Regions from separate parts of the Homo sapiens genome. Here regions 2 and 3 are each linked to region 1. The links come from fine-mapping of genetic effects on gene expression. A gene starts in region 1. Each other region holds a variant in brackets. All regions are shown on one strand. Distances are from middle to middle.

Evidence for each region. PIP is the estimated chance that this variant, and not a neighbour inherited with it, causes the effect. A credible set is the group of variants that fine-mapping cannot tell apart.
Region 2: its variant is the best candidate, but not a certain one, in a credible set for the expression of CTNND2 in tibial artery (GTEx, PIP 0.81).
Region 3: its variant is the best candidate, but not a certain one, in a credible set for the expression of CTNND2 in esophagus muscle (GTEx, PIP 0.59).

The regions. Positions count from the first base shown.
Region 1 is chr5:11,902,308-11,906,550 of GRCh38, forward strand. CTNND2 (catenin delta 2) reads right to left here and starts at 2,139. Exons shown (of 22, transcript NM_001332.4): 1 at 1,510-2,139. The coding sequence starts at 1,546.
Region 2 is chr5:11,980,631-11,984,873 of GRCh38, forward strand. No RefSeq gene overlaps it. Among named protein-coding and RNA genes, the nearest start is that of CTNND2, 78 kb to the left of the region's middle. The variant A/G (reference allele first, on the strand shown) is at 2,179.
Region 3 is chr5:11,948,027-11,952,269 of GRCh38, forward strand. No RefSeq gene overlaps it. Among named protein-coding and RNA genes, the nearest start is that of CTNND2, 46 kb to the left of the region's middle. The variant T/C (reference allele first, on the strand shown) is at 1,649.

The DNA of each region.
Region 1 (4,243 bases):
TGAGGATACTCGCCCCTATATATCACACGTCTCGTAGCAGAAATCCCCAAAATAATGACAGGTTCACCGCCATAACTTGATATGAGTCACAGCAAACACTTCTCCATGGGATTTTAGAAGTGGTGCAGCCCCGAAGCCTTGTCATTATGTAGGTGAATGACCAGCAGCAGAGACCAGCTGGACTGCCCTCGGTAGCTTCAGCCCCTGATGAAGTATGCACAATGAGATAACTCCTAGGGAGTTTCAGCACCTCCTTGTTTTCATGGAAGTCACTGCAGAAAATCCCAAGACTCTTAAATATTGGTCACATAGTTCTTAAAAGTGAAAATTTACACCTGTCAGGCCTAATACTATGCTGACAACATTCTCTGTTTTCTAAATCAACATATTTGCTTGAGCACAGTAAAAATACATCTTAATAACACCTGCCAGAGCTAAGGCGAATCAGATCAGCTCAAATGAGGCACACAAGAAAAGAAAAGAAAAAAAAACACCTTGGAAACACAACCTGCCCCTCTATCTCTCATCTCCCACACCCTTCATACCCCCACGGTTACAGCAAAATACAACTTTGGGCATTTTGGAAGTAACTGTTATTTGTGACACACACACACACACCCCAAAAATTCCCAAGTCTGTTTTCCTACCACAAACACCAGGGAGGCTGCATCACCTTTCTAGTGACTTAATTCTGAAAGCAGAGGCTCAACCTGCCGAGTGGCAATCGAAGAAAACACACTACACACCAGAATAAGATGAGGGTCGGGAAAAAAAGAAAAAAGCAGCTTCGCTTTCAGCCATTAATTACGGATCACCCCAATTTTGCATCGCTCATCTCCCATACACACGCACAGCCTTCCAAACCTGGCTTTCAGGCGGCGCTTTCTGGAGCCTGGCTGTCTATTGTCAGCACGCAGAAGCCCCCGAAACCTGTGAAGCCGGCTGCAAAGGCTTGCTGGGAAGCCGCTAAATATAGACCAAGGGGGCTCAGGGTCTGGCAAGCCGCGGGAGCCTGAAGACACGGCCATGGACGCATATGACTAAGTCTTTCCATTTTGTTCTAGCCAAACATCGTAATGACATTGAACATAAGGGCAAAAGACTGGAGGGAAGTCCTCCCCACCCCCACCCCGTCTCCTCCCGTATATTAGGGACGTCATGAATGCACCGAGTATGTTCTCAGGGTGGCGGGGAGCAGCATTGTCGGTGTTGCCCTAAATACGCTTCCTCCCGGGGAGATGGGTGGCAGGGAGGGGGAGCACGCAGGGCAGCCACTTGGTAACCGCTCCAAGAAAGGCACTAACCCCGGACCCCCTTCCAGGCACAGCGGCTTCCGAGGGGGACCTGGCGCGATCGCGGTCCTCCCCGAGGCAGGCAGAAACCCCGCAGCAGCCGCCGCCGCCGCCTGCCGGCCGGGAGCCCAGGACCACCCCCACCAGCGGCAAGAGGAGGAGGACGGCGCCGGGAGGAGGCTGCGCCCGGCCCCGGCCGCCCAGCCCCGCAACTCACCCAAAGGCGCGGCGCCCGGCGGCTTCCTCGCAAACATGCACCCTCCGCCGGCGACAGCTCCTCAGTCCGGGAAGAGGCGTGCGCGGCGCCGCCCGGCTTCAGGGCAAGGTCCTGACCTTGCCCAACTGCAGCATCTTCCGCTTTTGTTGTCTGAGCGCGGCCGCGGGACAAGGGATGCTGGCGGGCGGCAGGGGCGAGCGCCGCGGGCGAGAGGCGGCTCCCGACGCGAGTGCGCAGCGCCCGGCCCGGCGGCCCCTCCGAGCTCGGCGAGCGCAGCGCCCCCTGCCCGGCTCCGCGGGCTCCACGGGCTCCTGCGGGCTCCTCGGGGCTCCGGGCGCCGCCGCCAGCCGGCCGGGCTGAGAGAGCAGCCGCCGCGCCCGCAGCTCCGCTCAGCCGGCTGTCGCCGCGGGCGCGAGCCTGGGGCCGCCGCGGCGCCCGGCGCCGAGCGCTCCCGAGCTGCGCCCCGCGCGCGGCCCGCGCCACCTGTGCCGCCGCCGCCTCAGCCGCCGAGGGCGAGGCTCCTCCCGCGGCGCGCGGCAGCCTCAGCCTCCACCTAAACCTCGGCGGCCGGCCCGGGCGCCCGGCTAGTGAGGGAGCGTCCGCCCCGCCGCCGAAACCGGCCCCGGGTGCGGAGCATGCCCAGTGCCGCCGCGAGAGCGGCGCTTCGCCGCGCGCGTTCCACTTCTCCTGGTTTTCGCGGCAGCAGCGGCAGCCGCGGGAGAGAGGGGAGGAGGCCGCGGGTTGGGAGAGGGCCGAGCATCCTTGGGAACGCACGCCCTGGACCTGAGATGGGTGGATGCTCCGGAGCTAGGCGAAAGCTGGAAGGGACCCGGGAAGGGATGGAACCCCAGGTTACTCCGCTTCCCTAATTCACGTGCAAGGCGCTGACAGTTGACTCTGGTGGGGCAGATGTCAGCCTGCAACAAAGGACCAGGGTGCGAGGGGTCCTAGAGTGGCCAGGTGGGTTGGGGGAGGGAGGCTGGCGGAACGTGCTGGTGAGCGCAGGTAGATGCTCTTGCAGATCCTGTGATTCCAGAGCTAAGGAGGCACGAAGTCCAGCAGAGGTCTTCTCCACAGCACCTGCCCAATCTTGCCATCACCTTCCCTGTTCAGATGGCATGTTTTTGGCGGGTAGTGAGGGTTTCTCCTTAGGCAAAATCACTTCAGATTTGAAACTGGAATGTCTGTAAACTTCCTGCAAGAAAGACCCTTGCCCAGTCTGGAACTTGAGCAGATTAAGTTCTCTCTCCTCCCCTTCTTGTGCCACCTTGTCCTCCTCTCTTGGTATCTTCTGCTGCATCTCTGCCACCTTCTCTTCCTCCTTTTCTTCCTTATTTCAAAGTGAACCACTCCCCTGATCCTTCCCCACAGTCTTCCAGTGCATCTCGCATTGCCTTCTTCACGTTCAAATCAGTTTTCCATATCACCTCCTGGCTTGACTGCTCCTTGACCCCATCGGGACTTCCCCATGCGTAGCCTGCTGTGAAATACAGCAAGTGGAATCACCGTATTCAAAGTCTTGTTGAAAAACGAAACCCAAAACATGTGCCAAGGAAGGCCTCTGGGCCTTCGCCCCTGTCCCTCTGATTCAGCAGCAGTCAGGACGGGGCTCACGTCTGCTGCATTCACAAGCCAAGCCAAGCAGGGCACAGCCTGCCCAGGGGCCAGGTCGAATGTTCCTCCTAATTATGCCACGGGCATGACCCTGAACACCGCAGACTGTCTGAGGTTGTGATCTCCTCCACCCCCCCCACCCCCCCCACCCCCGCAGAGCTTGTTTCTGAAACACAAATAAGCATGACAGAATGCAGGAAATTGTAATAAAAGGGATTTGGTGCTTACGATTCTCAGTAACATTGTGCTTCTATTTTGTGTTGAAAGAGATTATCCAACAAACTTAAATGATTTGAATATTCAAGTCTATTCTTTATTATACTTGGGAGTAAGTTGAAATATAAATGGAAGTAAGAGTGAAGGAGAAAAGCGGTACAGAGGTTAAATAGGTAACAAATAATTGCTAGGAGGAGCAGATTAAGCAGACTATTGACAACAGTACAAATGTTCGCTTTTATTCCTCCTACCCCAGGTGTGGACATGCACACACAGGCTTTGTCTCACCTGCAAAAAACAGTTCTCCAAGCTAACTCCAAGTGTCTTAAAGCCAGTTTGATATTAAAATATCCTGAGTCCTGTGAGGGAAGACATGCAAGACCATTTTTTTCATCACACGTTTAATTGTAATTTTTATCTTAGTTCTCAGAAAGGCAGTTCAATTACACTGAGTACGTGGTACAAGACAAATTAGCAGCACCATATCCATTAGGCCACATTATATTTCAAGAGATGTTCTTAGTTCCCACCTGAGCTTCTGTCAGTCTGCTATCGTTTGGTTTTCTCTTTGCATCTTCTAACTCAAGAAGTCAGTGGGGAGGTGGAAAGGGAGATGAGGGGACATCAGTTACTCTTTAGATTAAAATGGAGGTAGATGTGTAGATGCTATCCACAGGTAATATATGTGTCTTTTATGCCTGATATAGATCTAAGTAAAGAAAATAATTTTCTAACGTTTTTTAGTTACTATCGAGATGAGCAATGACAAATTCTATCAACTAATTGTGTGTCTGGGAAATGAGCTGGAGGCAGTCCCTACAGATACTGTTGGGGCTGGGGCTGGTGTGATATGGTTATTTAGGAAGCAGAGTGGTAAAGTCCAATGTCCTGGACTGCTTTGATT
Region 2 (4,243 bases), 78 kb after region 1:
CCTCACCAGACATCAAATTTGCTGGCACCTTGATCTTGGACTTCCCAGACTCCAGAACCACAAGAAATTTTTTTTTTTTTTTTTTTGAGATGGAGTCTTGCTCTGTTGCCCAGGCTGGAGTGCAGTGGCGTGAACTCGGCTCACTGCAAGCTCCGCCTCCTGGGTTCAAGCCATTCTCCTGCCTCAACCTCCTGAGTAGCTGGGACTACAGGTGCCCGCCGCCACGCTCGGCTAATTTTTTGTATTTTTAGTAGAGACGAGGTTCTGGGCTTGGTGGTGGGCGCCTGCAGTCCCAGCTACTGGGGAGGCTGAGGTAGGAGAATGGCGTGAACCCGGGAGGCGCAGCTTGCAGTGAGCCGAGATCGCACCACTGCACTTCAGCCTGGGCGACAGAGCGAGACTCCATCTCAGAAAAAAAAAAAAAAAAAGAAAAGAAAAGAAAAGAAAAGAAAGAAATTTTTGTTGTTTTGAAGCCACCTAGTTTCTTGTATTTTGTTTTAGCAGGCTGAATGGACTAAAACAGAACTTCTGGTTTAGATCATTAGCTACCAACTTGGGGGAATGGGGCCAGGCTGCAATAAATGACAAAGCAATCCTAAGAGATGGATTATATATATTATATATATAATATTTTAATATATATTTTATATATGCATATATATTTTTATATATGCATCCATGTGTCTATATATGTGTGTGTATATCTTTAACAGTAACACCTACTGTTAAATATACCATTAGAAAAATTCCAAAGGTTGAAACTACTGCACAGAAGCGTATCTCTGTCCAGGGTTGTCTAAACACTGAAGACTCTCCAGGAGAATTTGCCTCTGGACGTTAAGGTGATTGACCTGGGGACTTTAGTTTTTGTTGCTGTGTAACAAATTACCCAAATGGAGTGGCTGAAAGCAGGAGCCGTTTGTCATCCCTCAGCTCTTTAAATCAGATGTCTGGCCCAACGTGAGTGGTTCTCTGTTTGGGTATCACAAGGTTGAAATCCAAGTTGAGCAAAGGTCTCATCTGGAGGCTCTGGGGAAGGATCCCCTTCAGAGCTCATTCTTGTAGTTGGCAGAATTTGTTTCCTGTGGCTATAGACTGGGGTCTCTGTTCTTTTGCTGGTTGTGAGACTGGGGTTCCCTTCAGCTCCTACAGGCTGTTCTCTGTTCCTTTCCATGCAGCCCTGTCTATCTTCAAAGTCAACAATGAATAATCTCCTTGGTTTGAGTATCCTTCCACATTCTACTTTCTCTGACCTCCTAATCTGCCACCACATGAAGACCATTCTCTGCTTGTAAAGGGCTCACGATTCAGACAGGTCCATACAGATTGTCTTTCTTACAGTCAACTCAGTCATATAACGTAACATAATCACTGGATTGCTATCTCATCATATTTAGAGGTTCTACCCATACTCAAAAAGGAGGAGGTTATATATATAGGCCAGGGTCATGGGTCATTCCAGTTTGTGCCAACCACATGAATCAGAGAATCTGGTTAAACATGATGTGGTAGACAGCCTCTGAGGTGGCCCGCTGTGATCTCCATGCTTGGTATTTACGCCCTTGTGCATCTCCTTCCTCAAGTGACCTGGACCTAGTGACTCACTTTTAACAATGAGCATATGGAAAAAGGGATGGGAGGAACACTAAATAAAAAGGTGTACATTGACTCAAAGTCACATGGACAATGCACATTTAAAAACATTACTCTGTGAAGAAAATCTTGGTGACATTGTAGCAGATGATATAGGAATACTGGTCCTTGTGCCACTATCTAGATTAGAGTAATATTTATCACATATTCACCTACACAGTGGCTGCCATCTTTGTCAATGCAGAGCATTAAGAAAGGACCAAATGCCCTGACTGAGAGGAGGAATACAACTGGAGTGGAAATGTAGTTGTCAGCAGAAAAGAGATGGAAAATATATTTAGGGGTGGAGGTGGGATTTGGGGTTGAGGAAAATGATGGGAGTGTAGGAACTGTAAAAACAGAGGTAGGCATACTTACTCTGTTTCAGTTCTTGACAATTGGCAATCTTAAATTATGAATGTTTATTCTTTATTAAGAGTATTTACAATATTCCTTTCCTAACAATGCTGAACCAAACTGATTGGATAATACAGTCATAAATTTACCTTCACACTTCATCAAAATTAAAGGAATAAGAACAGCTAC[A/G]TAATGCCTTTATACACATTTCCTCAGTCAAAAATGCTGAGGGGCGTGTGTTGCTTTAAAAATGTGTATTGTATGGTGAAATCTAGAATTAAACTCCTAACTTAAGGTCGGATTTAATAAAAAGCAAGAGGAGCAGAGTGCCAGGCCCACTTGACTGTGTGTTAGAAAATTCTATTTTATTTGCTCTGCACTTCTCTGTCTTATGAAACCTGACTTTTTAAAAATTAAACTTAGATTCCCAACTCTGAGACTATATTCAGCATATTTTCTTCCTCGGCTTCTTTGCTTCTATTACTCCCTAGGGCCATCTTTGTCTCTTCCCCAGTAAGCCAACTTCCATTGCTGACCAAAATATGATACATCAACATTTACCATCTTTCCATGTTATTGCTTAGTTTCATTGCTCTATTCATTTTTACAATCTCCCAGCAAGCCCTCCCCTTTTCATGTTTTTATATTTCTCTTCTCTGGAGGCTATTTTTTCTCTTCTTATGTCTTGCACTACATTTCTATTTTGAAAAAACAAATACTTGTACTGCTTTTTTCTTAATCAAGAGTAAGGCTGAACTTTATTACATATTCTCAGGCATTGCCAATTGACTTTACTAATTCCTGAAAATCATCCATTGGTTGTTAATTCTGTACCATTATCTCCTGGACCGTGAGATCACTAACAAATGCCCTTACTGAGAACAGTTGGTATTGGATGGTTTAATCAGATTGTAACTTTTTTTTTTAGGTGTACCTAAAGAATCCCTAAGTCTTTCTTCTTGGCCTCAGAAGTTTAGAGTTTTAAGTTTTCTTGGATTTTATACCATTAGAGCTGGAGATCATTCTATATTTCCTTATCTAAAGTCTCTGTGATAACTCCTTTCCCTATATTCTTATTTTCTCATAATGCCTATAAAAATTCAGCTTATAATGCTTATAACCATAAGCATTATAACTGCTTTCCCTGTATTCTTATTTTCTCATATTGCTTGTAATCATAATAGATTCAGGTATAATCTATGCAACCTTAATATTCATTAGTTCTGATGGTTTTAGATATGAGGATGGTCCAAAATATTTGATGCCATATATCTGGAAACCTTGTAGTGAAGGTTATTAAATCCTAGGGAATCACAGGAAGAAGTATGGGGAGAAATTTCCAGGAAAAAGAACAGATGTTACAGGGGCAAGCTGATTTATTATTTCATATTCTATATCTCTCTTACAAATATTGCCCTCTCTCCCACCCAAGCTTGATAATATATACATATATTTATAATTTTTAAAGAGGGATAAATTGGTGATGACTGTAGACTTATTTACAAATGTGTACTAAATAACACTTGAATCAGTTCTTATGATTGACTCAAGCTATGACTTACTATAGAATGTCTGAGTTTCCTGGTTATTTCCCTCTTTCCCTCTTATGCAGATCAAACTCTAGGCCCCACACCTAACATTGCTGATTTAATGATTTAACATTGAACTTGGAAGTGTGTGTTTTACATTGGAGGAACCTGATTACAGTGCATAATGTCTTCACAGATAAGTGTTAATGTGGAAAATGGTGCCATATTTTGGAAGTCAACTGGAAAATGACACATGGCAAGCTTGGCAGCACAACAGTCGTGAAGCAGTTCATGATCAGCCTTGGAAAGTTGCAGAGAGATGGCAGGCAATGACAGTGATTCAGGCCTTCCCTGATTTATACAGGAAATTAACATCTAAGTGGTGTGTGTACAAATTTTTAAGAACAAGTGATCCTGATGGAAAAATAATATGGAAGGTAAAATTTAAAAAGAAAACTCTTAGACCTATAAATTGATCATTTTGTTTTCAGAGAACTTGAAAGTGAATTTGATGCTTAGTTTAATCAAATTAGAAGTTGAATAGGGCTGTATGATTAAATTCCATAATGGATCATAAGTTAGAAGTAAACCATCATTCCTATTAATGTTTCTATAAATCTAATCATAATTTTGTGGTACTCTGATTCATAATGTACATTAAAGTATAAAAACACAGAAAATATTTTTAAGGAAAAATTATTATCTCACTATTAATATGAAAAGGA
Region 3 (4,243 bases), 46 kb after region 1:
GGCCAGTGGCTGAGCATCACAGGATCACTCAGGAAGGCCCCTTTGTATAAGCTTAAGAACTCCCTCTGGCTTTGCAGGAATTTTCTTTAAAATGCACTGCACTCTTTCTCCTTCTTTCTCTGTTTCCTTCCTTCCTCCCTCCCTTCCTTCCTTCCTTCCTTCCTTCGTTCCTTCCTTCTCTCTTTCCTTCCTTTCTTTTTTCCCTCCTTCCTTCCTTCGTTCCTTCATGGTTCCACTCTCCATGGAATTTGAACATGCTTTAATTACCATAAATCTATTTTTAAGATGTGTTGAAGCATTTTTGCTGAAGAACTATCAGTAATTACAGTTGCTAAAAAGCAGCTTGATTTTGTTTTCAGCCTGGCGCATATCTACTTTTATGTCAAGTGACCAAGGCGTGTACTTTACAAGAACAATTTTATAAAAGAATTCTGTAAGGTGTCATCATTTACTGAAAAACTACATGACTTTTAGCACCTACATTCTTCTGGAAAGGTTGATTGGTTCAGCAGAAGTCTTGAAAAGTGGTAAGAATTCATCTAAAGTGTTCACAGGTACCTAGAAGCTTTGGTTCCTGGCCCTGTGTTATGTTGATAGGTGGTACATGCCATGAACACATGCCAGACTCAGTAGTCTTTGTAAAGTTTCTTCACCAATGTTGATGGAGATAGTGAACAGTTTGTATCATGATGAGTAGTTTCATAGAGAAATTTATGGAATACCTATTTGAATTCATCTGGTGCCACCATCAGACTATCTTGGGAGTGTCAGAGATTACCTGAGCGAAGGGTTAGACCAGGTAGCTTCAATTCTTTCTTTATAAAATCTCAAACTAAACAATTATTATTGTATAGTGGCTTATTTGGAATCCACCTATAGATTTATCTTTTGGTACTTTAGATAGGATTATAACCTTGGTAAAGACTCGTTTGGCATAATGATCTACTAGATAATTTCTTTTAACTTCCATATTGCCCCTTCTTGCATGGACCTAAACCATTATCATAGTCATCTGTCTAAGAAGTAGGAGTGCCTCTAAAAGTTCCTTAACTATAGTCTATTTTTTTTGGTCGGTGTTGTCAGCTACCTAGAAACCCCTTTGTTTCCAAAGCATCTCCTAATCATGTATTACTCCAGAAGCGTGTTTGTTATCAGTATATATCCCTCTCTGAACTTCGGTGAATGGAAAAGCTCTAGCAAGTGCAGTAAGTTCTCCCATCTGGGCTGATTTTCTCTCAGGTATAAGATTGTATTCTAAAGGAGAGCTTAAATTAGTGAGAGTGTATCCTGTTTAATCCCCTCCAGTTTCAGTTTTGAGGTATGATATTAGATGAAGTTGCTCAATGTAAGCCTCTAATACATCTGGGTGAGATAGTGAAGGTTACCTAACCATGGTAAGGTGATCTTGAGGTCCTCTTTATTATGACGAAGGCAGGAAAGCAGAAGGACTCAGGGTGTTGTAGGACTCAGTAGTTTAACTGAGACCTAGGTCAAGCATGGAGCCTAGAACTAGTTCAGCAGAAATATTGACATGTAATAGCAACTGGCCTAAGACCAAGTGAACAAGTCAAATGAGGCTATAGTAAGCATTTGGGTTTTTTGTTTCCCATGAACCACAGAGGACAAAAAGGCTTGTTCAAACCACTTA[T/C]GCACAAATAGACAAAAAAGGCTGTTTGCAGTTAACGAAGCCTAGGGAAGAAAGCTTTGAAAAACCTTCCTTAGGTAATAGAAGGCTTGTTCATGTTTTGAATCCTAAAAGAGAGAGTCTCTTATTTAGGACTTAGTCAGTTAATAAAATTGACGCAATTTCAGAAAAAAAAAATTGGCACATGTTGTCTGCAATATCCAGTTAAACCCAGAAATCCTCTCAATTATTGTATTGTAAGAGGTTTAGGAACAGTTCAGTAGTGTTTATTCTATCTGAAGAGAGGCCTTTTTTTTTTCTCCTTAGATAGATCATGGCCTATAATGGACTGTGTTTTGGTAAAATTGTAATTTAGCTTTTGAAACTTTATGTTCTTTCCCACTAAAGTTGAGAGCAAGTAAATGGATTCCTTTTTTATGGGTTTCCTTTTTCTCTCAACAAAATAGGTCATCTACATATTGTGTCAAAGCTGAATCAAAAGAAAATTTAGACCTTCTGTCTTGATTGAAGGTCTGGAAAAAATATGAGGGTGCTTTAGTTAACTTCTAGAGCATAACAGTGCAGGCATATTTTCATTCTCCCCAAGTAGGACCAGAAGATATTTGTTGTCTGCTCTAGGGGCATGCTGAAAAAGAGCACAGATCTGCCACAAGGACTTAAGTAATTTTAGGAATTGACAACAAGGTGATATTTGGATTAGGTACTACTGGGAAGTGAGAAGTGAGAAGTGGGGGCTAACAATTTTATTGATGGCCTTGAGGTTTTGAACAAATACATATCCTTGGCCATTTGTTTTGCAGGTGGTGGTGTTTTTCTTCTTTCTTTTCCTTGTAGAATGGAAGTGTTACAATGTTACAAAGGCTAGTTCAGAGTAAGAGAAGGCCTTTGGATATAAGGCCTTTGCCAATGGGTCTGAGACTTTCTCTTGCTTCTGGCTTCAAGGGATATTGGTGAAGATTGGGTAACAGTTTGGTGAGGTAAAAGATTAATAAGATCTGTTCCAATTATTTTCCCATGTTAGTGTGTGTCCCATAGTGTGTCAGGTATGATGTCAAGATCGCTAATGGAGGTATGCATCAAATGTAATGGAGAGGACAAAGGTATATCAAAGTATAATCTACAACTTGATCATGAACAGAGAAATCCTCTGAAATTTCAAAACATACCTGGAACTTCTGGTGTGCATTTAATATTATGATCTCATTTGAAAAGTAAATCTCTCCCTGTCAAATTTGCAGCTGTGTTATTAGAGAGGCTGAAAGAATGTTTTTAAGTCAAATGCCCAAGTGTTAAAAACTGGGAGATAGTAAAAACCTGTGGGTTATTGAAATACCTCCTACCTGTGTGGTAAGTTTATTCTGAGGAAGAGGAAGGATTTCACATGGAACAAATAGTACCTGTGTCCACCAGGAATTGATGAGGTTGACTAGTTTTATATATATAGTCAATTCAACTTGATTATTTAAGGGTAAGATAGGCATGTTTTTCCCTTGAAGTACAATTATTAATCTGGATGGAGGAAGTTTTTTTTGGCTTGAATTTTCTTTTGTAAAATAAAACCATTATTATTCCACTTTTGTTACAATGTTAACAAGCATCCTTGTCAATACAAGATCAGTTTTAAAATGGGCTATTTTACTGTTTGATCTGCAGGGTAATAATTTTATTTTGGGTCTTGTCTCAATTTTGTTGTAAATCTCTTTCAATGTGTTCTGAGTTAGGTGCAAAATTTAGGAATGTAATGAGAGAAAAAAAAGTTTTCCTGGAAAAGAAGATAACTTAGACTTAGCTGACCCCATAGGAGCTGGCAATGGTTGGTCACTAGTGATACTTGTGTACATTGTGTGTTTGACCCCAAATTTGATAATTGTCTGCCACTAAATGCAGATGTGACTATCTGTGCTTCTTGATAAGTGGAAATGAGAGAGAATGCTTTCTCTAGAACAAAGCCACACTCTTAGAACAAAACAAAACAAAACAAAACAAAACATGAGTTGAAATGGACTTCATTCGGCTTTATTGGTGACCCACTGAAATGTCTGGATGTATGCCAATCTGGTGAGAACTGCAAACTCACTATGGTATGAAGCAAGCTAAACAAGTTTATAGGGACTATGCCTAGGTTATATTGTGTGATTTTGCTTATTATGAAAAACAACACTTTTAGACAGTACAACATAACATAGGAGCACAAGAAATAGTAAACATGAATGAATAGCAATGGCTCAATTCCACCAGGGTGCCGAACAAATGGAAATCAAGGACAACACCTGGGGGTACCAAACTAAAAATAGTTGAGGAACCCATCACAAAGGGACCTGTAATAGTCCGTTCTCATTATTAATATAAATAACTACCTGAGACTGAGTGATTTATAAAGACAAGAGGTTTATTTGACTTACAGTTCCACAGGCTGTACAGGAGGCATGGCTGAGGAGGCCTCAGGAAACTTACAATCATGGTAGAAGGGTGAAGGGGAAGCAAGCACATCTTCACATGGCAGTAGGACAGAGAGAGAAGCAGGAAGTGCCACACACTTTTAAACCACCCGATCTCATGAGAACTCACTCACTGTCATGAGAACAGAAAGGGGGAAGT